2 separate regions of the Homo sapiens genome follow, and region 1 is linked to region 2. Evidence: fine-mapped expression QTL. A gene starts in region 2. The other region holds a variant in brackets. All regions are shown on one strand. Distances are between the middles of the regions.

Region 1 (14,758 bases), 200 kb before region 2:
TTACATAGTAGCTGCATTTTAAAAAATCACAGGGTATGTTAAATCCATGTGAAAAAAGTATTTGTATTTATATATAAAGCAGAGCTGATATCAAGAATCAAATCATTATAAAGAGCTTTTCACCCACATAACTGTGCAGTAGGACATAGAATAGGACACAGACAGGGTTGCCAGATTTGGCCCATAAACATATAATATTTGAGACATACTAATACAAAAAAATGTATTTGTTGTTTATCCAAAATTCGATTTTAACTGAGTGTCCTTTATTTTAGGTGGCAGCCCTAGATACAGGACAATCTTTGTTTTGTGGAACTGTCCTGCAATCCAACTAGCATTCTTGTCCCCCACATATTAAATGTTAGTAGGCCCCCCAATAACTGTGATAACTAAAAATCCTCACAACTTTCCAAACTGCCCAGGAGCTGCCCCTACTGAGAACCACGGTCCTACAAAGGAGATCACCAGAAGCAAGCCCTACCCCTGCCCATAGAGCCCACATCAGATTCTTAGTGATTGACTCAAATATTAATGAATGGTTAAGGATCCATAGACATCTGAAAAAGACCCCCAAGGTGAAAAACAAAGGCCAGAACAGACAGAGAAAAGGGACTTGAAGAAAAGAACAAGAAGAAAAACAACTTTAGAGGAAAAACTGTATGTATTCTTTGGAGAGATAATAGCAAGAAGAGGATGCTATAGAAGGAGGAGGAGGAGAAACAGGAAACCTATCAGAGAAGTTGGAAATTAAATATGATAGCCACAGTCAAAAAAAAAGTCAATAGGGAGGGTGGAAGGTAAATTCAAGGGAGTCTCCCCAAAAACAAAACAAAATAACTAGGAGGTAAACAATAGGGAAAGAAAATGAGCCAGAAAATTAGAGGATCAATTCAGGGAGTCCAATATTCAAGTAATAAGAATTCTAGAAAGAGCAAACAAAAACTTGAGAGAGAAGAAATTTATCAAACAAATAATAATTTTTAAAAATGCTTCAAACAAAAAGATTAAAAGAGCCCATCAGGTACCAGAAAAAGAATATAACTTCTGCCATGATCATATTTTAGAACACCAAGGAGGAACAGAAGTTTCTAAAGAGAAAAAAAATTACATCCAAATAACTAAGAATAAGAATGGCCACTTCTTAACCGTAACAGAAAAAGCTAGAAAACATAAAGCACTGCTTTCCAGGTTCTGAAAGGAAAAAAATTATTTTCAGTCTAAAATTCTATACCCAGCCAAATTATCAGTCAGGCATGAGGACAAAGGAAAAATACAGGCTTGAAAGATCTCAGAAAACTTTGCTTCCACGGACTCTTTCTCAGGAATAGTTATTTAAGAACATGTTCCATGAAAATGAGAGGGTCAATAAATCAAAAAAAAAGAAAGACTTAGGATCCAGGAAATGAGATCAAACACAAATAAGAGTCAAAAGGGATTTCCAGGTTGATGAAGGGAAGGCCTAGAGCCATGCTGCACAGCTGTTTCCAAGAGCAACAAGTCAGCCTGAAGCAAGAGGATGGAGTCAGGAAAGTTATCTGGTAAGTTATTTAACAATGGGAATAATCATGTTCAGATACTACCCAAAGGAAACAAGTAATTTAAGCAAATGGATGGAAAGGCAATTATTAACCCTAGGAATATCCAAAAATGTATAAAAATAAAACATTATAATATACTCCTTTGCTCTGCAATAAACAATATTTACATAGTCATAATAATATAACATTTTATAATATAAAATAATATAATGAAATAATATATAAAAAATATAAATCTGAAATCAGAACAGAAAGAAAGTTATATCTCTTGTAGTTCATGAGAAAGCCAAAAGATAAAGTTTAAAATTGATGCCTCAAACCAATGATACGCACATATCAAATAGAATAAAAATAGAGATAAACGGCAAAGAAAAAAACTTAATAAGAATAAAGGAGTGGATGGGGCAGGAGACTGCTGTTTTTTCATAGGAGACTTCTGTCATTAACTTTTAAAGATATGTGTGTACTGCTTAGATAAAAGGAAAAATTAATTTCAAGAAATTAATGGCTGTGGTGGAAGTAGTCTGGAAAGGTTCCAGCAGGAAGAGCTGCTACATTCTGTCACTGAATTTAATCATTGAGCTACTCTCGACCCTGGGATGAGGCCAAGTAGACAGGCTCCTTTGAAAAGGGAAACCAATGACTCCTTCTGATTAGAGAAGGCTCGGAGGAGAGGGGGTTTGGGAAGGACCCTGCTGTGCACACCTGCCATGGCCATAATCTCTCTCTCTTATTCAATTTTTTGCCAAGTCACTGGGAGCAGGAAGCTGCTTTTTCTATTATATAGAGCAACAAAGGGGATGAGTGGTTTGATAATGAGGACTGATAACTGTCTAATACAGAGAAAGCCTGGGCTTCCCAAAAGCTTTAAATTACAACTTTGATCGCACTGATCAGGGTTCTTGAAGTTGCAGCTGGGACATAGAGAAGCCACAGAAGATGCAGTCTGAATGTTTTCTCAAACACAAAGAAAGACCTGGAGTCAGATTAAACAAAGATTTCCAGCTATTGAAGCAGATCAGTGGCGGGGGCGGTGGGGAGGTGGGAAACTAAGAGATGTTTCTGTGTCTTCAAATCTTATTATAAATTGCAGGTTGCCTTGTGTGTAAAGTGGAGATTAGAAATCGTTTAATTGCTGTTCAGTTTTAATGGAGAGTTTTATTTTAGTCAGAAAAAAACACAAATGGGTTATACAGGATGTGATAGTTTATGACTCAGTTAACCATACTTAGGAAAAACCTGTCTGCTTGGATCATAAGTCCAAAAGCCAGCCTCCACTATTCACACAAGTGGCAGCTTTACCTGGGCTACAGGCCTGGTGCCTAGGAGGAGCAATCACCTTACAGTGGCATTGCCTAACCTAGGACTTGGTGAGAAACAGCGTGTCCCTTCTGAGCCTGTGTATATTTTCAAACTAGGCTGTCTCAAGCCAGATGTATTTGTATATGTTCATCACAAATTCTGATTGAGGTAATGCTGACTTGATTCTGCAGACCAAAATTTACTGCATCTCAGATCTGTTTCAACAACTATTCCATTAAGATCCTTTGAACATCACATCTAATGTCCATCCAGTTAGGTAGTGTGGGGGTTGGGGTGGGAGGGGTTGAGGCCTGGCCTTCTCACCCCAGCTCTGCACAACTCTGAAAGTCACGTCTAGCTTCATCACTCTCTATAGGATCCATTGAGGGCGTTGTAACAACATCATAGCCAAGTTCTCCCTCTGCTCAATCCTGCTTTCTTCCTGCTTCCTGATTTTAGGAATACTTCCTAATTCATGTGTGCATACTAATCTCTAAAAAACAAACAAACAAACAAAAAACCCAGAAAACTCTTTGAACATTTAGTAAGAGCAGTAAAGATCTACAAACCAGAGATTATGGTCGTCATTTCCAAAGAGGTTTTTTTTACCAGACTTTGGCTGGTTTTTCATAAGCTGTTTTAACTAGATGCTAAATATCCCCCTCAAAGTTGATTTGATTTGGAAAAAAAAAAAGACAAAAAGATGGGCTCAGGACATAAATACAATGTGCAGTTCTACCCTCAGTAGAATGAACAAACCTAAATTCTCAGAGGTATCTTACATGACTTTTTGTGACTCCACAGATCTGAAACCACTATCTCAAACTGCAGAGCTCTTGGCTCCCTCAGATAACCTGTGGCAAAATCTCCCCTCATTACTGATGAAGTTTGAGATTTTCCTGGACTCTGGCTACCGTGGCCTGACCATTAGTCAAGAGATAGTCAGTCAGGGCCTCTTGTGCTCCCTGGGGGTATTCATGGTGGAGGAGGATATTAGCAGCATGGCTGTCTACACCAGCAATTCTTACAGCAGGTCATGGTGGAGTTCACGGGCGTGCACATGTGAGAAAGAAAAGGCCTGCCTCACTCCCTCTGTTACCTGCCTTCCAACTTCCTCTAGGAATAACATGCTAACAACACAACTTCCTCCACTCGGGTGACCACATACTATTCAATTACTGCTAGACTAGCACCATGTATTAAGTGATTAACATGTGCTAGGCCCATTTCTTATCTTATTCAATTCCCATAACAATCTCCAGAGAACATGGGTACCCTTTCCCAGATGAGAAAACAGAGGCTTTTAGAGGTTAAGTAATATGCCAAAGACCACATGGAGTTGGTATTCAAACTTATGCAATCTGAGCAGGCATCCTGTTTCTATTTATTTATTTTATTTTATTTTATTTTATTTTATTTTATTTTATTTTATTTTATTTTATTTTATTTTTATTTTTTAGATGGAGTCTCGCTCTGTCGCCCAGGTTGGAGTGCAGTGGCGTGATCTCAGCTCACTGCAAGCTCCCCCTCCCAGGTTCATGCCATTCTCCTGCCTCAGCCTCCCAAGTAGCTGGGAGTACAGGCATCCGCCAACATGCCCGGCGAATTTTTTGTATTTTTTAGTAGAGACGGGGTTTCACCGTGTTCGACAGGATGGTTTCAATCTCCTGACCTCATGATCCACCCGCCTCAGCCTCCCAAAGTGCTGGGATTACAGGCGTGAGCCACCACGCCCAGCCTTCTATTTATTTTTTTATAAATAAATTCAACTTGGGTTTCTGCCACAACCAAAAGAGTGTCATTCAATACAGAAAATTAATGTGATGGGCAAAACACGAAACCACAAAGCCAAAAGAAGAACAGGCAGCTGGGTCTCAGAAGCTTCTGCAGCCGCAGGGTCACACGCTCAGGGCTTCACCCCTTGTTTCTATTTCTCTACGTGTGTTGGTTTCTGGCACTGAGTGGTTGGTGATATTTTGGACGAGGATAAGTGTTTCTGTATTTCTGAGATTAAAGGTGATTTTCAATTTATTTTAACATTTTTTCTATCACTTTTTTTTGTTTTCTGCAATAAATTTATTTCTTATGTGATTTTTTAAAAGGCGTGAAGAACACAAATAAAATCAAAACAAACTCCAGAGTGCTCACTGTTCATCCCCTAACTGCTAACAATCCCAGAAAATACATCGGGCAGACTCCTAGATGCAAGAAAAGTGGACTGAATGTGGCTGGATAATATGCTGAAATGTCCTTTTTTTCTCTCTCTCTCTTTCTCTCATTTTCTTTTTCCCTTCTTCTTTCACCCCAGTTTAAGGAGTAGCCTACTCCATCTCAGAGGAGGTATGTCATGGGGCAAAATATAAAAATAATATGCAAAATACTTTCCTTCCTGGATTTTAATCCCAAGAACTTAAACAATAGAGAAGGGAGAAGAATTGAGGATGAAGGTAGAATATGTGGAAAAAGCATGAGCAGAAAAGGATTTCCTCAAAACTCAAAAAAAGACTTGCCAGGGAGGGAGTAGGAGGCAATAGTTACCAAAAATTAAGCTTTTTCTTCATTATTTTTTTTTCTTCTCCCCGCCCCGCCACCTTTTTTTTTTTTTTTTTTTTTTTTTGCTAGCTCCATACTAAATAATTATATAAAACTTTTTAAGGCACATTTCTAGTAATTCATACATTGAAGCATGTAAAATTATACATGGAAAGCACTGACATAAGGAAATATTTCAGCATCAACTGCAGAAGCACCTGAACAGGCACCCCCACCAAAAATATTTAGGAAGCTCTGCAGAGAGGAAAAAAGCTATTCGATCAAGGATCTGGGATTATTTCTACTTTGAAACTACTCATTATTAGAAATAACTACAGAGTTCTAGAGACAGAGATTAAGAAATAAAGTCCTGCAAAGATATATTTGTTACTCTGCTTTCTTAAGAACTTATGGGAATTACACATTAATGTTTTGTTTTTGGTTTTGTTTTTCCCCTGCATAAATGCCTCTGTTTTGGTTTCTGCTTCTCAGCTTCTGAATGTCACCCACCAAGAAGCTGTGAGCTGGATGCTCCACAGATATGATATACAGAGCCTTCCCTGCTGGCCTTTTTCCTTCCATCTGGAGATCAGCCCGGGTCCATAGGTAAATCACATCTTCCTACCTAATAATGACCAACTGCTAAAACCCAGGTAAGAGTACAAGGCTTGGAATTGGGGAAAGGGAAAAGGCAGCATTTTATCAGCTGATTCAATTTTTTGTTTGTTTTAAAGGCTTTTTAAAAATAAACTTATTTTGGAATAATTTTAGAAAAATTACAGAAAAGTTGCAAAGATAATACAGAGAATTATCATATACCCCTCACCTAGTTTCCCCTAATGTTACCATCTTATATTACATGGTACACTTGCTAAAACTAAAAAAAAAAAAAAAAAAAAAGGGTACATTATGATTAACTAGCCTTTATTCAGATTTCACCAGTTTTTCCACTAACATTCTTTTTCTGTTCCAATTCAGGAAATCACATTGCATTTTGTGATTTATAATTTTTAAGTTTAAGCTCTATTTTTACAAAAGTTAACATGTCCACAATTGAAAAAGGAAATGATCATACATGACTTATGAAAGGCAATCTTCTGCCCAAACCCTCCTTGCTTCTAATTTTCTCCTTCCAACAGCAAACAATTTCAACTTTCTCACTTTTTTCACCCTCTCTCCCTCGGTCCAGCCACACTGTTCTCTGAACATTCCTCAAGTATGCCAAGCCTATTCACATTTAAGGCCAAATCTTTGCTCAAGTTTTCTCTTTGTCATGTCTTCTTCCCAATAAAGTCTACCCAGACAGACCACTCTATTTAAAATTGTGGAGACTTCTGGTTCTGAAATGGCAGAACCAGAAACGAGTGTAGAAACAAGCTGGTGTAGAAACAAGCTGGCTTCACTCACCCCAAAGAAAACCAAGATCAAATATACAGTGCTGAGATTATCACTAGCAATAAATTATAACTCAAATATGAAGATGAGAAAGTTCTCCTGGCCTCAGAGAAGCGAAAAAAACTCCAAGCAGATGGTAAGAGACTTGGACTTCCATATCTGTGACACCCCTTTCCCCAGTCTGCCTAGCACAAAATGCATAGAAAATTTCCCCTGACGCATGGTTTCTACACTGGAAAAAGTGAGTTGGGGTGGACAACCAGCTTGCCCACCCTCTTGGTTCTCTGTCAGGAGACCTGTCCCTGCCTCAAACCACAGGATGCACTGGGAGTGCTTGAAAGGAGAAATCACCCTAAGGAAACTGAGGAGGCAGGACTACCATCTCCAGCTGTGAAAACTGCTCTCAGCCAAAGAAGACACCAAATTAGAGCAGCACCACACTGTAGGTTTGTTCCACATATCCTTGGGCATAAACTCTTAACCAGCCTTTCGATATTACCAGGATATTCCCCCTTGAGACCTACCCCATTCAGTACTGGTGGTACTCTGGTTGTTTAATAGAACCAGGGCAAACCCGGGCTTAAGGCACCATTTAGTGCCAAAAAGGAGGCAGCAACCTAGCAGTGGAACATAAGAAAGAAAATCAACTGATAAATTACAAAGAATCTCTAAGCAAACATACCCAATAAAAACCAAAACAAGCCAGACAAAGAAGACTGGAATAACTAATCCTTCAATGCAAAAACATAGACATACATCCACAAGAAACGGCAGCCAGTAGAGTGCTATGACTGCCTCAAATGAACAAAGCAAGGAACCAGTAACTGACCCTAACAAGATGGTGATATATAAACTCTCTGACCAAGAATTCAAAATGGCAGTTTTAAGGAAACTCAGTAATTTCCAAGATAACATGGAAAAGCAATTCCAAAATTTGTCAGAGAAATTTAACAAAGATATTGAAGCAGTTTTTTAAAACACAAATCTTGCGGCTGGGTGCAGTGGCTCACACCTG[T/C]AATCCCAGCAGTTTGGGAGGCCGAGGCAGAAGGATCACTTGAAGCCAGGAGTTTGAGACCAGCCTGGCCAACATGGTGAAACCCCATCTCTACTAAAAATACAAAAATTAGCTGGGCATGGTGACGCATGCCTGTAATCCCAGTTATTCAGTTGGCTAAGGCATGAGAATTGCTTGAACCTAGAAGGCGGAGATTGCAATGAGCCAAGATTGCACTGCTGCACTACAGCCTGGGCAACAGAGTGAGACTCTGTCTCAAAATTTAAAAATAAAATAAAATAAAGTATAAAAAATCACAAATCTTGAAACAGAAATACGTTTACTGAACTGAAAAATTCATTAGAGGCTCTCAACAGCAGAATGGATTAAGCAGAAGTAAGAATCAATGAGCTCAAAGACAGGCTATTTGAAAATACACAGAGGAGAAATGAGGAGAAAAAAAAGAATGAAAAGAAATACAGGTCACCTACAAAATATACAAAACTACCTCAAAAGACCAAATCTCTTTTTTTTTTTTTTTTTTTTTTTGAGATGGAGTCTCACTCTGTCGCCCAGGCTGGAGTGCAGTGGTACAATCTCGGCTCACTGCACTGCAACCTCCCCCTCCTGGGTTTAAGTGATTCTCCTGCCTCAGCCTCCTGAGTAGCTGGGATTACAGGCATGCGCCACCTTGCCCAGCTAATTTTTGCATATTTAGTAGAGACGGGGTTTCACCATGTTGTTCAAGCTGATTTTGAACTCCTGACCTCATGATCCACCTCCCTCGGCCTCCCAAAGTGCTGGGATTACAGGCATGAGCCACCGTGCCTGGCTCAAAAGACCAAATCTAAGGATTACTAGTGTTCAAGAGGGAATTGAGCAAGAGCAAGGAATAGAAAACTTACTCAAAGAAATAATAATAGAAAACTTTCCAAAACTTGAGGAAAAGATAAATATCCAGATACAGGAAGATCAGAGAACACCAAACAGGTATAACCCAAATAAACTACCCCAAGGCATATAATAATCGAACTCTCAAAGGTCAAGGACAAAGAGAGATCCCTAAAAGCAGCAAGAGAAAAGAATCAAATAACATATACAGGAGCTCCAATTCTTCTGGCAACAGACTTCTCAACAGAAACCATACAGGCCATCAGGGAGTGAGATGACATTTTCGAAGGGCTGAAAGAAACAACAACAACAACAACAACAACAACAACAACAAAAACTGCTTACCAAGAATAGTTGTAACCTGCAAAGCTATCCTTCCAATATGAAAGAGAAATAAAGGACACACACACACAAAAAAAGAAAACTGCAGGCCAATATCCCTGATGAACACAGATGCAAAAATCCTTAACCAAACCAAATTCAACAACATATTTAAAAAGATTCACCATGATCAAGTGGGATTCTTCCCAGGATACAAGAATAGTTCAACATACGCAAATCAATAATGTGATACATCACATTAACAGAACCAAGAACAAAAACCACCTGATCATTTCAATAGATGATGAAAAAGTATTCAACAAAATTCAACATATTTTTCTAATAAAAACCCTCAACAAATTGGATATAGAAGAAACATACTGCAAAATAACAAAGGCTACATATGACAAACCCACAACTAACAGCAAACTGAACAGGGAAACATTGAAAACCTTTCCTCTAAGGTCTGGAACAAGACAAGGATGCCCACTTTCAACATTTTTTTCAACATAATACTAGAAGTCCTGGCCAGAGTAATTAGTCAAGATAAAGAAAAAAAGGACATTCCAAATGGAAAGGAAAAAGTCAGACTAGTCTTATTCACAGAAAACATGATCTTAGAAAAACCTAGACTCTACTGAAAAACTGTTAGAACTAAAAACAGATTCAGTAAAGTTGCAGGACACAAAATCAACATACAAAAATCAGTAGAGTTTCTATATGCCACTGTGAACTATCTGAGAAAGAAATAAAAAAAGCAATCCCATTTACAATAGCTACAAAAAAAAACCTAGCAATAAGTTTAACCAAGGATATGAAAAATCTCTAAAACTATAAAATATTAATGAAAAAAATCGAGAGGGACACTAATAAATGGGAAGATAGCTCATGTTCATGAATTGGAAGAATTAATATTGTAAAAATGTCCATGCTATCCAAAGGGATCCACAGATTTAGTGCAGGTTCTATCAAAGACCAAAGACATTCTTCAGAGAAATAAAAAAAAAAATACTAAAATTTGTATGAAACCACAAAATACTTCAAATAGCCAAAACAATCTTGAGCAAAAAGAACAAACCTGAAGCCATCACACTACCTGACTTTAAAATATACTGCAAAGCAATGGTACTGACATACAAACAGATGCATAGACTAATAGAACGGAATAGAGAACCCAAATATAAATCCCCACATTTGCAAACAACTCATTTTCAACAAAGGTGCCAAGAACATACAATGGGGAAAGAAAAGTGTCATCAATAAATGGTGCTTGGTAAACTAGATAACCAAATGCAGAAGAATGAAACTAGACCTTTATTTCTTACCACATACAAAAATAAATTCAAAATAGATTAAAAATTTAAATCTAAGATCTGAAACTATGAAACTACTAGAAGAAAACATTGAGGAAATCCTCAAGGACATTTGTCTGAGCAAAGATTTTTTTGCTTTCTGAGCAAAGACCCCAAAAGCACAGGCAAGCAAAGCAAAAATAGACAAATTGGTTACATCAAGCTAAAAAGCTTCTGCACAGAAAAGGAAACAATCAATCAACAAACATCATATGTTCTCACTCATATGTGGGAACTGAAAAAGTGGATCTAATGAAGACAGGGAATAGATTGGTTGTTACCAGAGGCCAGGAAGGCTAGGGGGTGAGAGGGATAAAAAGAGGTTGATTAATGGGTAAAAATATGCAGTTTGATAGAAGAAATAAGACCTAGTGTGTGATAAATTAGTAGAGTGGCTATAGTGTACAATAATCTATGGTCTATTTCAAAATAGTGATAAGAGAATAACTGTTTCTAGCATAAACATTGTTAAAATGTTCATACTAACCAAAGTGATCAGAAAGAAAAGCATAAAGAACAGATATTTAAGGTGATGGATATCCCAATTACACTGATTTGATCTTTACAAATTATATGAATGGGATAAATTATTGCATGTACACAGAAAATATGTAGCTATATTTTGTGTCAATAAAAATAATAAGGCTCAGCACAGTGGGTCACATCTGTAATTCCAATACTTCAGGAGGCTAAGGTGAGAGGACTGCTTGAAGCCAGGGGTTCAAGATCAGCTTAGGCAACATAGTAAGACTGCATCGCTACAAAAAAAATAAACAGCCAGGCACGGGGGTGCACACCTACTGTAGTGCTAGCTACTTGGGGGGCTGGTGCAGGAAGATCACTTGAGTCCAGGAAGGACTTCAGTAAGCTATGATCACTCCACTGCACTCCAGCCTGGGTGACAGAGCAAGACTTTGCCTCAAAATAATAATAATAATTAATTAATTAAAATTAAAAATAGCCTGGGCACAATGGTTCACACCTATAATCCCAGCACTATGGGAGGCTGAGGTGGCCAGATGGCCTGAGGTCAGGATTTCAAGACCAGCCTGGTAAATATGGTGAAACCCCAACTCTACTAAAAAATACAAAAATTAGCTGGGCGTGGTGGCAGGTGCCTGTAGTCCTAGCTACTCGGTAGGCTGAGGCAGGAGAATCGCTTGAACCCAGGAGGCAGAGGTTGCAGTGAGCCAAGATCATGCCACTGCCCTCTAGCCTGGGTGACAGAGCAATACTCCATTGCAAAATAAATAAATAAAAATAAATAAACTTATAGGCCAGCTGTGGTGGCTCATGCCTATAATCCCAGCACTTTTGGAGGCCCAGGTGGGCAGATCATCTGAGGTCAGGAATTCGAGACTAGCCTGGCCAACATAGCGAAACCCTATCTCTGCTAAAAATACAAAAATTAGCCAGGCACCTGTGGTCCCAGCTACTCAGGAGGCTGAGGTGGGAGGATCATTTGAGCCCAGGAGGCAGAGGTTGCAGTGAGCCAAGATCACGCCACAGCACTCCAGCCTGGGCAACACAGTGAGACTACATCTCAAAAAGTTAAAATAAAATAAGATAAAATTATAATACACCTCACCCATGCACTCCCAATGTCCCTTACTCTAATTCTTTGTTCTTTTTTTCCACATAATGCCATATACTTTATTTATCTATTTATTATGTATATTGTTTATTATTTCTCTTTCCCTACTGGAAGGTAAACACCTAGAATAGTGCTGGGCCAGACAACAGTCTTTAAATAAATATTTGTTGAATAAATGAATGAATGAACATTGAGAGAGAAGTAAGCAGACAGGAAGATGTTCTTTCTGTCTTCCTCCTCCAACTCTGCAGCATCCCTCTAATTTCCATACTGACAGAGCCTAACATGAAGACAGCCAGCAAAGAAGAAATGTGGTTTGCAGCGTTCCAGCCCCAGCATCACAGAGCAGAGTGTAAAAAGGTGAGCTTATGGCTGAGAAACAGTGTAATAACTGAAACACACACACTCAATTTTCCTGCACTAATCTTCCCAATATAGTTATATTTCCATTTTTGTTTAAATTTATATTATTCTTTACATTATTTTTAATATAGAATATTATTTGCCGCTGAGTCATATGGTGTGCAATGATTACATTTCCTTTCTTACACAACTTTCTGTTTTTCCAGGATTTAATAATTGCTTATCTTTCTTCATCTCAATTTCATTCCCCAAATTCTCACATAACACTCCTCTCAATACAGTCAAACACATCAGGAACCTATCAGCTCATTTTTTTTCATGACTAGATGCTTCAGTGCAGTCCTCTGTCCTCTTGTATTTTCATGTTTAGCTTCTTTGTTTCTAAGATTACTTCTTCCCCTATTCTCTAACAGCCTCTTGATACAGTTTTCCACATATTCATATGTATCTGATGATCCATCTATTATTTTGTTTTCCTTCCCCATGGAGCCCTGTACCTCTCCTACTGCAGACTGGATTGTTTCTTCTTGAGGCCTGCTACACAGCTGTTCTGGAACTTCCCTTCCCCAGCATTATTCTGAATGTCCTCTCCTGTGTTGAATCCCATATTTCCCAGATCTCAATCTTCCTCTTTCCTGGTTTAATCATTTTTGAGGCTCACATTCTCCAGTATCTTTCTGAGAACGAATGCACAGGATATAAGCATTTTGCATGTCCGAATTTGTCTACTGTAAGACTTTATGGATGGTTTGTCTGTGTAAGAAAAATCTAAATTCAAACTACTCTCCTCAGTATATCAAAGGTATTGTTCCATGGGCTTTTAATTCCTCAAGTTGCTATTGAAAAGTCTTATGTTACTCGGCCTCTCACTCCTTTATATGTATCCAATTTTTCTTTTTTGTGCTTCTCTCTGGACTTTAGGACTTTCCTTTTTTTCCTGTGTTTTTTGTTTGTTGTGGTCTCTGGTGATCCATGACTGTTCACTCATATGTGAAAGTGAGAAACCAAAAGGCCGACTGATAGTTCAGTGCATGTGAGCAGGGTTTGTTGATTGTCAGGTCTTGCCTTGCTATAGGATGATTAGGTGGGGACCCAGCGATTTTGTTGATGAGTCCTTTCTGTCAGTATTTTCTTTTAGACTTGTCAGTTTCTCCAGATAGAAGTGACTGTGTTTCTTGTCTTAGGTATTCCTGATGACGGTGAACTGTAAGGAGGGGAGCCTGCTTGGCTTGTGAACTTTTACTTAATACCGCTCTTCAAATACAGTGCTTCTGCTCTGCCCTCTGCCATACTGAGTCCCCAATTCCCTGGCCTCTTCAGTCAGCCTCTGCAGAGAAGACATTCGCCCCAGTGCCCTGGCAGAGCAGACAATCACCTGGCTGCGTAGAGTGAGGAAGGAGCTGTAGAAGCCTAAGCGTCTCATGCCATTCTCGTTTGGAGTCACATCCTGAACCGCTTCCCAGTTCTACCACCTATGGCCCTGAAGTATCACGTAGGGAACTCAACTTCTCCCTCTGAGCTTGGAAGACCTTTGAAACACATAGGATGTCCAGGGCCCTCTTGGCCCTGGGATTCTATGATCCATGAACCTTCAGAAGCTAGAGAGCTCTGCCTAGGTAGTAACATAGACAGGAAGATACAGGAGGTGAAGAAGGGCAAGGTGACAGTGGGATAGAGTGGCAGGAGACTTCAAAGAAAAGGTGGGATGAGAGCAGGACAAGAGCCAGTTGGAGGAATAGGAGAGGGAACGCCTCCTCAGGTGTCCAATACTGGGGCAGGATCGTCACAGCATGCTGGGGGCTGGTAGGCAAAGGGTTCTAGAATAATAAAGTGGAAGAGTAAACTTCAATTAGAATGTGGAGAACTTGAATTTCTTTTTTACATTAGCAAACCCCACAATCAAAGTCGTCTAGAGATTTGTTTTCAGTGCCAGAGACCCTACCCCAGACTTTAAATCAGAATATCAGAGAAGAGCCCAGGAACCTATATGCCTTTAAACTTTCCACGTGAGTCCAATAAACTGGCAAGTTTTGGAACCACTTCCTTAGGCAATGGAGAACCATGGATGGTTTGTAATCAGGATGCATGATAGAAGTGGAAATTCTAGAAAGATGAATTTGACAGGCATACGCAAGGTGGACTGGAGGTTGAAGGACATGTGACAGGGATTCAAGGGAGGAAATTTCAATACTTCACAAAGATGGTCATGAGAGTCTATAGGAGGTAAGTGGTCAGGGAAAAGAAAGAAGAGACTATACCAATCCTTCTTTCATGGATTGAATTATGTATCCCCCAAAAATTCATAGGTTGAATTCCTAACCCTTAGTACCTCGGAATGTAACCTTATTGGGAAATAGAGTCACTGCAGATGTAATTAGTTAGGTTAGATGCGGTCATAGGGTGGACTCTAATCTAATAGAAGGGGGAACTTTGGACACACCAGCATGGACAGCCATAGAGGGAAGACGATGAAAAG
Region 2 (14,758 bases):
ATCACAGCTGAGGATTGTTCACATAGCCAGGATGCCGGGGTCCGGTGCAACCTACCTTACACTGGGGCAGAGACCAGGGTCAGTCATCCTCTCTACCTTGGTTGAGGTCTCTTTCATCCTATCCAGGTCTGGTCTCCAATCTACAGTCCAATGGCCCCCAGCCCATTGCCCCAGGCCCCTGCCCTCCTGCAGCTCCCACCTGACCCATCACTTGCTAGCCCATTATGTGCCTGAGTCACGCTTCAGCCACATCTGTTAGAGACTCCCACTACCTCACCCCAAAGCTTTCTCCAGCGCTTCCATTCTGTGTCACTACAGATCCGACTCAGTGGGGGCCGCAGCCAACATGAGGGGCGAGTCGAGGTGCAAATAGGGGGACCTGGGCCCCTTCGCTGGGGCCTCATCTGTGGGGATGACTGGGGGACCCTGGAGGCCATGGTGGCCTGTAGGCAACTGGGTCTGGGCTACGCCAACCACGGCCTGCAGGTGAGTGGGAAGGAAAGGGGAGCCGAGGCTGTTGTCTCAAAGCCTGTGTTTTGGGCAGAGGGCTGAGGAATGAGTCCCTTGGCCCAAGATGCTGGATCCTGGGCCTTACAGAAACATCTGCATATGTCCCCAGGAGACCTGGTACTGGGACTCTGGGAATATAACAGAGGTGGTGATGAGTGGAGTGCGCTGCACAGGGACTGAGCTGTCCCTGGATCAGTGTGCCCATCATGGCACCCACATCACCTGCAAGAGGACAGGGACCCGCTTCACTGCTGGAGTCATCTGTTCTGAGAGTGAGTGAAGGAGGGGGTGATGCATGCCAGGGAAGGGAGTGTCTGGGCCACCCGTTTGCAGGGAAAGGGGGCTGTAATCTGGAGGGGCACTTCTTCCCCATAAAAGAGCCAGTTTCGCCGGGTGCAGTGGCTCACGCCTGTAATCCCAGCACTTTAGGAGGCCAAGGCGGATGGATCACGAGGTCAGGAATTCAAGACCAGCCTGACCAAGATGGTGAAACCCTGTCTCTACTAAAACTACAAAAATTAGCCAGGCGCAGTGGCAGGCGCCTATAATCCCAGCTACTCGGGAGGCTGAGGCAGGAGAATCACTTGAACCCAGGTGGCAGAGGTTGCAGTGAGCCAAGATCACGCCGCTGCATTCCAGCCTCGGCAACAGAGTGAGACTCCATCTCAAACAAACAAACAAACAAAAACAAAAACAAAAAACTAGTCTTACACACTAGGGAGGGATGGAAGCACCCCTCTCTGTGAAGTCAGCAGTGACTTCTAACACCCCCTTCCTTTCTTGGTGCAGCTGCATCAGATCTGTTGCTGCACTCAGCACTGGTGCAGGAGACCGCCTACATCGAAGACCGGCCCCTGCATATGTTGTACTGTGCTGCGGAAGAGAACTGCCTGGCCAGCTCAGCCCGCTCAGCCAACTGGCCCTATGGTCACCGGCGTCTGCTCCGATTCTCCTCCCAGATCCACAACCTGGGACGAGCTGACTTCAGGCCCAAGGCTGGGCGCCACTCCTGGGTGTGGCACGAGTGCCATGGGTGAGAGGGTAGGGAGTCAAGTAGAAGGGCAAGACCACGGGGGATGGGGCAAACCTTCTGGGGGCAGAGAAGGAAACAGAAGTTCCCTTCTCCCCACAGGCATTACCACAGCATGGACATCTTCACTCACTATGATATCCTCACCCCAAATGGCACCAAGGTGGCTGAGGGCCACAAAGCTAGTTTCTGTCTCGAAGACACTGAGTGTCAGGAGGGTGAGTTGGGGACTGAAGTGAACCACATGGTATCCATTGCACAGCCTTTCCTTACACTGACATATGCCAATCCCTCCAGATGTCTCCAAGCGGTATGAGTGTGCCAACTTTGGAGAGCAAGGCATCACTGTGGGTTGCTGGGATCTCTACCGGCATGACATTGACTGTCAGTGGATTGACATCACGGATGTGAAGCCAGGAAACTACATTCTCCAGGTACCTGGAGTCTGGGGCTTCCAGATGGGTGAGTGGGGGGAGCGTTAAAGACACCTTTGAATTCGAGGATTGTCGCTGGGTTAAGTGGCCTTTTTCTCACTCACAGGTTGTCATCAACCCAAACTTTGAAGTAGCAGAGAGTGACTTTACCAACAATGCAATGAAATGTAACTGCAAATATGATGGACATAGAATCTGGGTGCACAACTGCCACATTGGTATTTGATGGGAAGAGCAACCCAGGAAGATTAGGGGATGGGAGGGAAAGACGTTCATTCTCTTTTCCATAGCTTGTTTCTCCATCTTCCCACCTTCCTGTAGAGCTCTCAGTCCCTCCACTTCTACCCACCCTTCTCCACAGTGCATCTATCTCCCTCCCTCTGTGCAGGGCGCCTCCCAAATTGCCTGTCCACTCTGCAGGTGATGCCTTCAGTGAAGAGGCCAACAGGAGGTTTGAACGCTACCCTGGCCAGACCAGCAACCAGATTATCTAAGTGCCACTGCCCTCTGCAAACCACCACTGGCCCCTAATGGCAGGGGTCTGAGGCTGCCATTACCTCAGGAGCTTACCAAGAAACCCATGTCAGCAACCGCACTCATCAGACCATGCACTATGGATGTGGAACTGTCAAGCAGAAGTTTTCACCCTCCTTCAGAGGCCAGCTGTCAGTATCTGTAGCCAAGCATGGGAATCTTTGCTCCCAGGCCCAGCACCGAGCAGAACAGACCAGAGCCCACCACACCACAAAGAGCAGCACCTGACTAACTGCCCACAAAAGATGGCAGCAGCTCATTTTCTTTAATAGGAGGTCAGGATGGTCAGCTCCAGTATCTCCCCTAAGTTTAGGGGGATACAGCTTTACCTCTAGCCTTTTGGTGGGGGAAAAGATCCAGCCCTCCCACCTCATTTTTTACTATAATATGTTGCTAGGTATAATTTTATTTTATATAAAAAGTGTTTCTGTGATTCTTCAGAGCCCAGGAGTCAGTGCTGGTGGTTGGAGGGACCTGCCCCCACTGGTTCATTTAACCCTCTGTCTCGGTGCCCTCAGAACCTCAGCCAGAAAGGCAAGGAGGAAATCAGAGCAGGAGCCTCATACTCTTGGTGATCTATTCATTCTGTGACCTCAGGGGTCACATATAAGGTCAGTGTTTCTCGTCCCCGCCGGATCTGCACTGCCAACTGGGATTGGGTTCGAACAGCTTCATAAACATCTTCAGCATTTTGTACCATCTGCTCCCCAATGGCCAAAATCACATCACCAGGCCGCAGACCAGCCCTATAGAGAAAAATGGACAGAGAGAAAGGAAGGAGTACAAAGCCTAGTTCAAGGACACATGCACACCTTGCCCATCCCCATATCACACTGCAGCCTCTCCCTCACCGGTGTGCAGGGGAGCCCAGGATGACTTTATGGATGAGTACACCATGCTGAACATCGGGAAAGCTTGGTTCTCGAAGCTGTAGTTCAGCAAGGATGCTGAAAGTACACAGATCACCCTATTAGCCAAACCCAGGCATTCTCCCCATCCTGAGTTCCACCTCAAGTCTCTCATCAACACATTGATAAATATATGGACAGGACATGGGCTAGGTACTACAAAATACAATGGCAACTCACTTTCTGTCTTCTAGCAATAAAGTGCAACATGTACATAAAAGATGTACACCACATGAGGGCACCAAATGACAAACAGTGTTAAATCAATAGCACTAATGTCATTCTAGAATACTAAGAGAAGCTTTAAGGGGAAAGAACTTAAGTTGAGCCTAAAAGGATGGATCTGATATTAACCATATAAAACAAGAACAGCATAAATAAAAAACATGGGAGTAGGAAATCAGGTTGGCTGAGTATTCATATAGGAAGGTATTACAGCCAGGTCTAGAAAGTTGATTTACAGACAGATGGAAAATGGCCCTTAAATGCCAAGTTAATGGATTGAAGGCTTGAAATCAAAGCAGTAACAGGATGAAATCAATCTGGTGACAGGTGTACAAAGTGGAGTGGGATAAGAAAGTCAAGATGATGAAGGGAGACAGCTCTTGTGATTATTTCAAGTGTGACACAGTTCATCTTAGATAAAGACAGAAATGAGAACAAAGCTCAATAGAGGTGCCCCCCTCTGATTACACTGGTCACATTACATGTCACTGTCCCTAAAGCTCATACCTGGGACTCAGGGTCAGCATCATCACCCCAATGTAGCGCCGCTGGGACCCACTGATTCCGGAGGAGGAATCTGTGACAGAGGGACAAATGAGCCCCACCCAGCTACATCCTTCCTTCCCTGCCCTCTTCTCCCAGTAGACCACCCTCCAGGAAGTCCCACTGAATGCCCTTCCCCTATTTCCACCACATTAAAGGAACCCGTTTCCCCATAAGGCAGGCTCACTCTTCTTTTCCCCACGATGCAGAAACTCTCGAAGACGATCAGAAGGGATGGCAAAGGAGATTCCAGCTGTGACCTTCATGGTGTTCACTCCAATCACCTCCCCATCCTGCAGGGATACAGCCCCCAGTTCCCTAGCCTAAACAAATAGTAGGGGATGGGGGCACCCGAACAAAAGTACCAGCAAGTGTTGGGGAGATCTGGTTGGATATTGAGAGATAGCCAACAAAGAACTGCTCAGAAACTTGACCAAACATCCTTGAATTAGGGGAAACCTACCCTTCCCACACTGACCTGGGGCAGGGATTCTTGGAAGGAAGGATGTCTCACTCACCAGGTTAACCAGGGGACCTCCAGAGTTTCCAAACTGTAGGACAAGGAGAAAACATGAAAGAGATCTGGGGATTCTAAGTCTGGGGGCATACCAGGATGTAGGTACTTTCTCCAAATTCTCTTCTTTCTCAGCCCATGAATAAGTGGCCACATTTTTGCAGCCTAAGCTCTATATAGGCTCATCCACCATATATCAGTTGGTGCTTGTACCACACAGCCTCTCCCCCCTCCCCCATCATTTGTCATTTCTCTCCTATCAGGACGCACATCAATAGCTGCATCAGTTTGAATGTATTCCACATTGGTTTGGGGGAGTCCCAGGTCTCTGGCTGGACGCTGAGCAGAGCTAACAATGCCGGATGTGATCGTGTTCTGCAGTGCAAAGGGACTTCCCATGGCAACAACAAACTCCCCTTGCCGGACATCAGCTGAGCGTCCCAGAGGCAGCGTGGGGAGAGGCTCCTAAGGGAGAATGGGTAAAAGAGACCTGTCATCTGAAGATGCGAGCAAATAAGCAGCTCCAACCAGACCTGGCCTACCCCAGCCCCCACCTTAGTCTGAATCCTCAGCGTTGCGATGTCTGCCACGGGATCCACAGCTGTGACCACGGCCTCATACGTGTCGCCGCTTAGCAGTCTCACACGGACTCTGCGCCGATCAGCCACCACATGGGCGTTGGTGACAATGAGCCCATCGGCAGCCACCACGAATCCTGAGCCGTTCGAGATAGGGACCTCGCGGCCCAAGAAAGGGTGCCTGAAATGGAGGGAAAGCACAGATAAGAGGAGGCTCTGACCCCTCCTACCCGCCCGCCCTCCAGCCTGTGGCTTCAGTGCCTCCCGGTCTACCCCCACCATTACCGGTCCAGGATCTCGATATAGACCACGGCAGGTGCTGTCTTCTCCACCACATCTGCGATGAAGTTGTACTGACTCCGGGGAGAAGCGGGCGGCGGGCTAGGGACGGCGGCGAGGACGGCCGGAGGACCCCGACCCCCGCCCCACAACAACAACAGCACTGCCCCCCCAGCGCCCAGCGCCACCGCCAGCCACGCGCGCGAACGGGTTCCAGAGTTCTCTGAGGCCTCCCGGGTCCTGGTATCTGGGGTCACCGCAGTCAGTTGTGCCCGGGGACCCGGGGTCCCAGACGTCAGGCATGCTCGGGGTTCAGTGACCCCAACAGACAACCGGGCCCAGAGACTGGGGGTCCCATAAGTCACTCGGGCCCGGGGGTCAGAAGTTCCTGACGTCAGCAGGGCCCGGAGGTCAGGGGTCAAACGGGGTCTCCTCCCCCAGCGAATGCCCCCCAAAGCCCGCCATGCCCGAAGGCTCCAGCCTGCACCCCGCCCCGCCCTCGGCGCAGCCATCAGCTCCGCCTTGGCTGCCTCCTCGCCCGCCCTACTCAGAGGCGGCACCCAGGACGCGAGCAGGCGGACAGTAGGACGCGGGGCACGCCGGTACCTGAAGTCCTTCAGAAGTGCACGCCGGGACCAGGATTCCGGGAGGCCGACTCCTCCCTGCCCCACGAATGCCGGGAATTGTGGTCTCCGCCGGACGCGAGTTGTGAGACGGCCCAAGGGGCCGCGGGGTATGCTGGGACCGCTAGCCCTTCCGGCGCGCCTCAGGACTTCGGGTCCCCTCACCCCGGGCGGATGCCCAAAGACTCCGCCTTCCCAAGAGCCCCTGCGGCCGGGCGCGAAAATGGCGGCGGCGGCGACGGCCGGGCGCTCCTGAAGCAGCAGTTATGGAGCTTCCCTCAGGGCCGGGGCCGGAGCGGCTCTTTGACTCGCACCGGTAAGAGACCCGGCGGGAAGAGACCGATCCCCGCGTGCTCTCGGCCTTCGGCGCCTGACCACTTCGCCTCTCGCCCCCAGGCTTCCGGGTGACTGCTTCCTACTGCTCGTGCTGCTGCTCTACGCGCCAGTCGGGTTCTGCCTCCTCGTCCTGCGCCTCTTTCTCGGGATCCACGTCTTCCTGGTCAGCTGCGCGCTGCCAGACAGCGTCCTTCGCAGGTTCCGACGCGGGCGTTCGGGGAGTGTCAGAGCTGGGTCTGGCCCGAGGCCACACAGTCACCACCTCCTGTGTCCCCAGATTCGTAGTGCGGACCATGTGTGCGGTGCTAGGGCTCGTGGCCCGGCAGGAGGACTCCGGACTCCGGGATCACAGTGTCAGGGTCCTCATTTCCAACCATGTGACACCTTTCGACCACAACATAGTCAATTTGCTTACCACCTGTAGCACCGTGAGTGAGAGCGAGGCCGAGAGCGCCACGGGGCGGTTCCCTGGGGCCCAGCTGAAGGCCCCCCTGTCCCCACTCGCGTTCCCCATGGAGGATACTGAGCCTTACCCCTAACCCCGATCCTCTACCCAACATGTCAGTTTTTTTTTTCATTTTCCTCAATATTTTTCTTCTTGCTTTCTCTTCTCCTGGTTCCCAGCCTCTACTCAATAGTCCCCCCAGCTTTGTGTGCTGGTCTCGGGGCTTCATGGAGATGAATGGGCGGGGGGAGTTGGTGGAGTCACTCAAGAGATTCTGTGCTTCCACGAGGCTTCCCCCCACTCCTCTGCTGCTATTCCCTGAGGAAGAGGCCACCAATGGCCGGGAGGGGCTCCTGCGCTTCAGGTGGGTTTAGCACAGGTATGGGGCGCCAGCTGGGTAGGTGGTCAAGCTTGTGGGCCCTTGAGTTTTTACAACTTTCTTCGGCCCTTAGACCCCATCATCTCCAGTTCATTTCCTTTCTGTCCACTTTAAGTTCTTTCTCCTGAATCCCTTCATTCTTCAATTATGTGCTTGTAGAGTTTGACAGTTGCCTGTTATAAGGCAGGTGTGAGCTGCTGACTAGGCTGGCTGGATTCCCATCCTACTTTCTCCTTCCTCTTCTAGTTCCTGGCCATTTTCTATCCAAGATGTGGTACAACCTCTTACCCTGCAAGTTCAGAGACCCCTGGTCTCTGTGGTGAGTGTGTGTTGAACAGGGAATCTCTGGGGCTTGAAGGGGAAATTTCCCATCCCTGGCCCTGGCTTAGGCCTCATCTCATGCCCTCCCCTCAGACGGTGTCAGATGCCTCCTGGGTCTCAGAACTGCTGTGGTCACTTTTCGTCCCTTTCACGGTGTATCAAGTAAGGTATTAACTGTCCTCACATTTTGGTCGCTGGGGAGAGGCTCACCTCAAGGTCAAGGAATTAGTGGCCTCTGCCCTGTCCATTTGTAGATCTTTATATCAAGGTTCTACCACAGAGGCAACACAAAGTATTTACAGTATTTACTATTTTCCCACCCACCATGCAAAGAGGTACCAAAGTGGGGAATGGTGACAGCCTCTACCCTGGGTGCCCACAACATAGCCCTGGATTGTTTCTTTGCAGGTGGCTTCGTCCTGTTCATCGCCAACTAGGGGAAGCGAATGAGGAGTTTGCACTCCGTGTACAACAGGTGGTCGGGTGCACAGACAGGGTGGAGGCGGGGTCCCTGCTTAGGAGGAGAGGGAGGAAAGCTTGAGATCTTGACACTTCCAGTCTTCCAATTCTCCCTAGCTGGTGGCCAAGGAATTGGGCCAGACAGGGACACGGCTCACTCCAGCTGACAAAGCAGAGCACATGAAGCGACAAAGACACCCCAGATTGCGCCCCCAGTCAGGTATGTGGTCTCTATACATTACAGCTTTTGGGGTTTTTTTTTTTCGGCCTACTGTGATTCCTCCCCTATTTCTGTGCTAGTTAGCCTCTCCTTCTAGTTCTCTACTTACCAGAATTTCTTTTTTCTTTTTTTCCTTTTTCCACAGCCCAGTCTTCTTTCCCTCCCTCCCCTGGTCCTTCTCCTGATGTGCAACTGGCAACTCTGGCTCAGAGAGTCAAGGAAGTTTTGCCCCATGTGCCATTGGGTGTCATCCAGAGAGACCTGGGTATGGGAAAGGGTGGCCCCACACTGGGAGATGGGCACAGGGAGGAAAAGTGGGTTGTGAAGGAAGAAAGTAAGTAGGGAGTGGACTCCCTTCTCTTTTCTCCCCAGCCAAGACTGGCTGTGTAGACTTGACTATCACTAATCTGCTTGAGGGGGCCGTAGCTTTCATGCCTGAAGACATCACCAAGGGAACTCAGTCCCTACCCACAGCCTCTGCCTCCAAGGTGAGACCCAGGAAATGGTCAGATCCAAGTGTTGGGGTGAGTTGGGGGCAGGCTATGTACTCCCTTATCCCTGACCTTTCTTTTTTGATCCTGAGACCCTAGCATAGTGCCTCTCTTGCAAAGTAGGCATTCGATGCGTGTTTAATGATGATGACTCCGCAAGCCCTCTGACATTGTGATCACCTCAGTTTCCCAGCTCTGGCCCGGTGACCCCTCAGCCAACAGCCCTAACATTTGCCAAGTCTTCCTGGGCCCGGCAGGAGAGCCTGCAGGAGCGCAAGCAAGCACTATATGAATACGCAAGAAGGTGAGGGGGTTAGAGGACAATTAATAGGATGTGGCAAATTGGAGAATGGAATTATGGAGCTACTACGGCAAAGCCTGAATAATATCTCTCCCTATGTCCCACAGGAGATTCACAGAGAGACGAGCCCAGGAGGCTGACTGAGCTCAAAGGAACAGGATGGCACCCAGAGCCGCAGGACGGAGACTGGGGGCAGCCCTCACCCAACTCACAACAGGCTGGATGGGTGGGTGGTAAAAAGGGAAGGATGAGGCTCCCCCAATGTCACATTAAATTCATGGTTTTCATTCAAGGCATCTGTTGTCTCTCTCGGTCTCAAAAGCCCTGTGAGTGGGTTCCTTATTCCTTGGCTGCGGGGGATGGGGGTGAGAGTCTTCTCGTACATTTGAAGGGGGTAGTCAGACTGCAACTGTCTAAAATCACCTCCTCATGCCAAGTGATGAGTGATAAATTAAGGAAGTGTAACTGAACTGAAGACCCAGCTTGGGTGATCAGCCCAGGTTTTGGAGGAAGCTGCTGCAAAACTACAAGTCCCAGCATGCCTTTCACAAGCACACTACACATCATCTATAGAGTTCACACATGCTCAGTGTGGTAGCTGGAGCCTGTTTTCCATAGGTTCCTGACTAGGTTAAATAAGGTGGAGCAAATAGCCCCACCCCAAAAGCAGGCTTCAGGATTTGAAGTTTGAGCCCATCCCTGAGGTAGAGCCGGAATTTACCTTTGTACTTCACACGGTCAGGGTTGGTGGTGACTACGTGGGTCTGGAGCTGACTGCCGTCCTGACACGTCCTAGAGCTGCAAGCAGGTTTGAATCCAGGATCCCTGTGACTCTGCTGTTCCTCTCCCCACCCCCTATATTCTTTATCCTTTTCCCTTCAGGACTTTCCCACAGGTTACTAGGTCTCACATAATTTCTACTGCCCTTGAGGACCCCTGCCTAAGTAAGATTTCTACTACCTGCCAACGGGGTAATAGTCTCAGGTAGATTTCTACTACCTGACTATAGGGACTGTCGACTAACTCTCAGTAGCCCTTTATCAAAATACCTAGCACTGTTTCCTGGCAGGAAATGCTGGGAAGGGTGGGCCCCAGAGCATGATCAACTGAAGGTAGAGGTTAAGGATCAGGGCTGAGGTGGGAAGATGGTGTCGGTCACCAAATATGACCTTACTGGCTGCTCTGCCTTCTGCAGGTCCTGCCAGAGAGCCACCATGACCTCTCAGCCTCTCAGGCTAGCAGAAGAGTATGGCCCAAGTCCTGGGGAGTCTGAACTGGCTGTGAACCCCTTTGATGGGCTTCCCTTCTCTTCCCGCTACTATGAGCTGCTGAAGCAGCGCCAAGCCTTGCCCATCTGGGCTGCTCGCTTTACCTTCTTGGAGCAGTTGGAGAGTAACCCCACTGGAGTGGTGCTGGTGTCTGGGGAGCCTGGTTCTGGCAAGAGCACCCAGGTGTGGTGGGGGTTGTGGGGGCAGGCAGATTCTGGGAGTGGACAAAGGGAGGACAAAGGGAGGACAAAGGGAAAGTGGCCTTTCCCTGGGCAAGGGGGGACTGGGCTGCGTGGGGTCATGAGGAAGGTGAACGAAGAGAGATGGGATGGGTTAGGTTGGCCCTGGAGGCTGGTGAAAGACCAGGGGACTCCCCAAATAAGGAAAGATTAAAGTGGCCATAGTTCCCTGAGCACTTCTGACTGAAGTCCTACATCTTCCTCACTGGCTCTCCTTCCCTACTTCTATCCCAGATCCCTCAGTGGTGTGCAGAGTTTGCGCTGGCCAGAGGGTTCCAGAAAGGACAGGTTACTGTTACTCAGCCCTACCCTCTTGCAGCCCGGAGCCTGGCTCTGCGGGTTGCTGATGAGATGGACCTGACCCTGGGTCATGAGGTTGGATACAGCATCCCCCAGGAGGACTGCACGGGGCCCAACACCCTGCTCAGGTGGGGGCCTCTGCAGGCCTTACCCGAATATAATTCCCCTTATTCAGTAGAAACAAACCCATTCCTCTGGCATCTCACCATACCCTCCCTTAGCCCAACTCACTCTTTTTTATTTTATTTATTTTGGAGAAAGGGTCTCACTCTGTCACCCAGGCTGGAGTGCAGTGGTGCAATCACAACTCACTGCAGCCTCAACCTCCCGGGCTCAAGTGATCCTCCCACCTCAGCCTCCCAAGTAACTGGGAATACAGGCGCGCACCTCCACGCCTGGCTAATTTTTATATTTTTTGCCATGTTGCCCAGGCTGGTCTCAAACTCCTGGGCTCAAGTGATCCACCCACCTCGGTCTCCCAAAGTGTAAGGACTACAGGCATGAGCCACCGTGCCTGGCCCCAACTCACTCTAAATTGTGTGTGGTGCAATGGCTAAAATAAGCCCTTGAATCCCAGCCAGGGGCCTCAGACATTCAGCCTCACCCTCATCAGAAAAATTTCACTTCCCAGCTGGCGTATACCTTGTGAACAAAGTGTTCTCAGCGGGGTTGTGGGGTGACAGTTATGGGTCCATAGGCTCAGGAAGTCACAGCATATTTTTCTGACCTTCAATATCAAAATATACGTCCCTTGGGGAGAAGATTCCCTGAGCTTGTGGGGCTGGTCAGTGTCCACACTGATTCCTCTGCCCACTACCAATGTCAACAGGTTCTGCTGGGACAGGCTGCTTCTGCAGGAGGTGGCCTCGACCCGAGGCACTGGAGCCTGGGGCGTGCTGGTACTAGATGAGGCTCAGGAGCGGTCGGTGGCATCAGATTCACTCCAGGGGCTACTGCAAGATGCCAGGCTGGAAAAACTTCCGGGGGACCTCAGAGTGGTTGTGGTTACTGACCCAGCCCTTGAACCTAAGCTCCGAGCTTTCTGGGGCAATCCTCCTATTGTGCATATACCCAGAGAGCCTGGTGAGAGACCTTCCCCCATCTACTGGGACACCATCCCACCTGATCGGGTGGAAGCTGCCTGCCAAGCAGTGCTTGAATTGTGTCGGAAGGAGCTTCCAGGAGATGTGCTAGTGTTCCTGCCCAGTGAGGAGGTAAAAAACAAAACAAAACAAAAAAAACAGCCTGCAAAATGAGCCTGCAAAAGGAGGTACTCATCATCATCTTCCAGTCCTGAGGAATGGGAATGGGAGCAATGCCTCTTAGGAACAGTAGAGTTGCAGTATTTACTCTCCGTTGGGGTCCCAGAGAAAAACTTGAGGATTTCAGGGTAAAGAGGTTTACCACTCACTTTTTTATTCCCTTTAATGCAGAGATTTGTGATTCAGTGAACCCCTGAAATTATAAAACCTTCAACTTTATGAGTAATTTGCATTTTCTCAGAGTGAAGGGCCATAACTTTCAACAGTCTTTCAAAGGGATCTGTGACCCCAAAAAACGTGAGAACTGCCCTAATGCCCCACCCACCCTTCTTCTCAGGAAATTTCCCTGTGCTGTGAATCCTTGTCCAGGGAGGTAGAGTCCTTGCTTCTCCAAGGGCTTCCACCACGAGTACTGCCCCTTCACCCAGACTGTGGACGAGCCGTTCAGGCTGTGTATGAGGACATGGATGCCCGAAAGGTTGTGGTCACTCACTGGCTGGCTGACTTCTCCTTCTCCCTCCCTTCCATCCAACATGTCATCGACTCAGGACTGGAGCTCCGAAGTGTGAGTGAGAGAGAGAGATAGCGGTGGGGTAGTAAAGACAGAAATGGCCCACTCTGATCTGTCTTGGCCTTGGTTGGGGGACGGGCAACAGGTTTACAATCCTAGGATCCGAGCAGAATTCCAAGTGTTGAGGCCAATCAGCAAGTGTCAGGCAGAGGCAAGACGATTGCGAGCAAGAGGGTTCCCACCAGGTAAGAGCCTTTGCCCTCACTGAAATAAAAAACCCAAGAGTCACCAACATGCAAGCCCTGAGAAATCTACAGTGGTCTTCTTTCCCAGGTCTTTTTCCCCTCAGGATCCTGCCTCTGCCTGTATCCTAAGTCCTTCTTAGAACTAGAAGCTCCACCATTGCCACAACCCAGGGTGTGTGAGGAGAATCTGAGCTCCCTGGTGTTACTACTAAAAAGGAGACAGATTGCAGAGCCAGGGGAGTGTCACTTCCTGGACCAGCCTGGTGAGCACCTCTCCTGCCCAAGCACTGCCATCTGACCACCCAGTTCTGAAACTTCATATCCTGTAAGCCCTGTTTCCTCACCAGCTCCAGAAGCACTGATGCAAGCCCTGGAAGATTTAGACTATCTGGCAGCCCTGGATGATGATGGGGACCTGTCAGATCTGGGTGTCATACTATCAGAATTCCCTCTGGCCCCTGAGCTGGCCAAAGCCCTGCTGGCCTCATGCGAGTTTGACTGTGTGGACGAGATGCTCACCCTGGCTGCCATGCTCACAGGTATAAATCGCTGCTGTAAATCCATAGCTCTTGAAACCACTTCAGCCCTTCCTCTTGGGTTTTGGTGCTCCTGAGGCTAGCCCTTTCCTCTCTGCTCCAGTTGCCACCCCTCACAATGCCTAAAGAACCAGGCTTAGTCACCCATCTCCCTCTTGTCTCTTTAGCCTTTTTTCTCTGCTGGTTCTTGCCCTCAGCATGCTTAAATCTCTCCTAATCTGTTATTGCTAAAACTCACACACCCCTCTTCCTCAACCCTATCCTCCCCTTCAGCTATGCAGCATGATTTCTATCCTGTTCTAACTGGTGTATTGCTCACCCACTGCACTCCAGCTTCAGGTCTACCATGCCAGTGAAACAGCTTTCAACTCACCAGTGACCTTCCAGGTACCTAATCCAGTGGATACTTTTGAACCCTTATTCATGACCTTCTTTTGACACTTGAGATTGCTGACCGCTCCACCTTGAAACTGCCTCCTCCCTAGGCCTCTGTAACGCTGCTCCTCATGGATTTCATCCTACGTCTCTGGTCATCCCCTTTATCTTTTCCTTGAGCTCTTTGTCCTCTTCTTATCCATTGTAAATTGGTCCTCAGGGTTCTATTCTTGCCTCTTTTGTCTTCTATTCCCTGAACTCTCTGAGCAAGTTTATCCACACCCATGGTTTGAAGTGCTACCTTTAGCCTTAAAATTTCCAAACCTTGTGCCGTGTATCTCTCACCCAATACCATTCTTCGAATCTGAGAGACAGAGAGAGAGCAAGGGAGAGACGCATGGGGAGAGGGGGAGAGAGGGAGAGGGAAAGAGGGGGAGAGAGGGAGAGGGAAAGAGGGGGAGAGGGGGAGAGAGGGAGAGGGAAAGAGAGGGAGAGAGAGAGAGCATACTCCAACTCCTGATGAACGTTTCTTTTTTTCTTTTTCTTTTTTTTTTTTTTCAGACAAAGTCTCACTCTGTCACCCAGGCTGGAGTGCAATGGCATGATCTCAGCTCACTGCAACCTCTGTCTGCCTGGTTCAAGCAATTCTCATGCCTCAGCCTCCCAAGTAGCTGGGACTACAGGCACGCACCACCATGCCCAGCTGATTCTTGTATTTTTAGTAGAGACGGGTTTTTGCCATGTTGGCCAAGCTGGTCTCAAAGTCCTGACCTCAGGTGATCCATCCACCTCAGCCTCCCAAACTGCTGGGATTACAGGCCTGAGCCTCGGCACCCAGCCCCTGATGGACATTTCTACCAGAATAGTTAACAGTACCTCAGCTCAGAACTGA

Which allele goes with the higher level. Alleles are on the strand shown, and positions count from the first base shown. SD is a standard deviation of normalised expression in the study named.
For the expression in esophagus muscle of the gene that starts at base 6,368 in region 2, C is the low allele of the variant in region 1 and T is the other (moderate effect, 0.66 SD a copy in GTEx).

What was found. PIP is the estimated chance that this variant, and not a neighbour inherited with it, causes the effect.
Region 1: its variant is fine-mapped to the expression of AUP1 in esophagus muscle (GTEx, PIP above 0.99). The same link has a PIP of 0.9 or more in sun-exposed skin and testis.

Annotation. Positions count from the first base shown.
Region 1 is chr2:74,723,252-74,738,009 of GRCh38, reverse strand. The region is part of intron 2 of LOC102724497 (a long non-coding RNA gene); the gene reads right to left. Among named protein-coding and RNA genes, the nearest start is that of SEMA4F, 76 kb to the right of the region's middle. The variant T/C (reference allele first, on the strand shown) is at 7,783.
Region 2 is chr2:74,521,316-74,536,073 of GRCh38, reverse strand. It overlaps AUP1 (AUP1 lipid droplet regulating VLDL assembly factor), which reads left to right and starts at 6,368. Exons shown (of 12, transcript NM_181575.5): 1 at 6,368-6,494; 2 at 6,575-6,712; 3 at 6,792-6,942; 4 at 7,139-7,323; 5 at 7,585-7,657; 6 at 7,753-7,826; 7 at 8,068-8,134; 8 at 8,236-8,338; 9 at 8,484-8,603; 10 at 8,711-8,826; 11 at 9,015-9,133; 12 at 9,238-9,422. The coding sequence starts at 6,445. The coding sequence ends at 9,274. DQX1 (DEAQ-box RNA dependent ATPase 1) reads left to right here and starts at 9,843. Exons shown (of 12, transcript NM_133637.3): 1 at 9,843-9,938; 2 at 10,326-10,581; 3 at 10,872-11,065; 4 at 11,767-12,151; 5 at 12,537-12,764; 6 at 12,856-12,955; 7 at 13,060-13,218; 8 at 13,303-13,494. The coding sequence starts at 10,345. HTRA2 (HtrA serine peptidase 2) reads right to left here and starts at 6,141. Exons shown (of 8, transcript NM_013247.5): 1 at 5,562-6,141; 2 at 5,253-5,457; 3 at 4,969-5,163; 4 at 4,703-4,735; 5 at 4,372-4,477; 6 at 4,149-4,218; 7 at 3,360-3,455; 8 at 2,755-3,254. The coding sequence starts at 6,067. The coding sequence ends at 3,089. It overlaps LOXL3 (lysyl oxidase like 3), which reads left to right. Exons shown (of 14, transcript NM_032603.5): 7 at 1-78; 8 at 319-486; 9 at 620-782; 10 at 1,300-1,543; 11 at 1,643-1,758; 12 at 1,838-1,974; 13 at 2,081-2,192; 14 at 2,395-3,816. The coding sequence ends at 2,468. RefSeq lists enhancers at 5,035-5,244, 5,255-5,334, 5,365-5,434, 5,455-5,584, 6,040-6,922 and 2 more and a silencer at 5,975-6,064.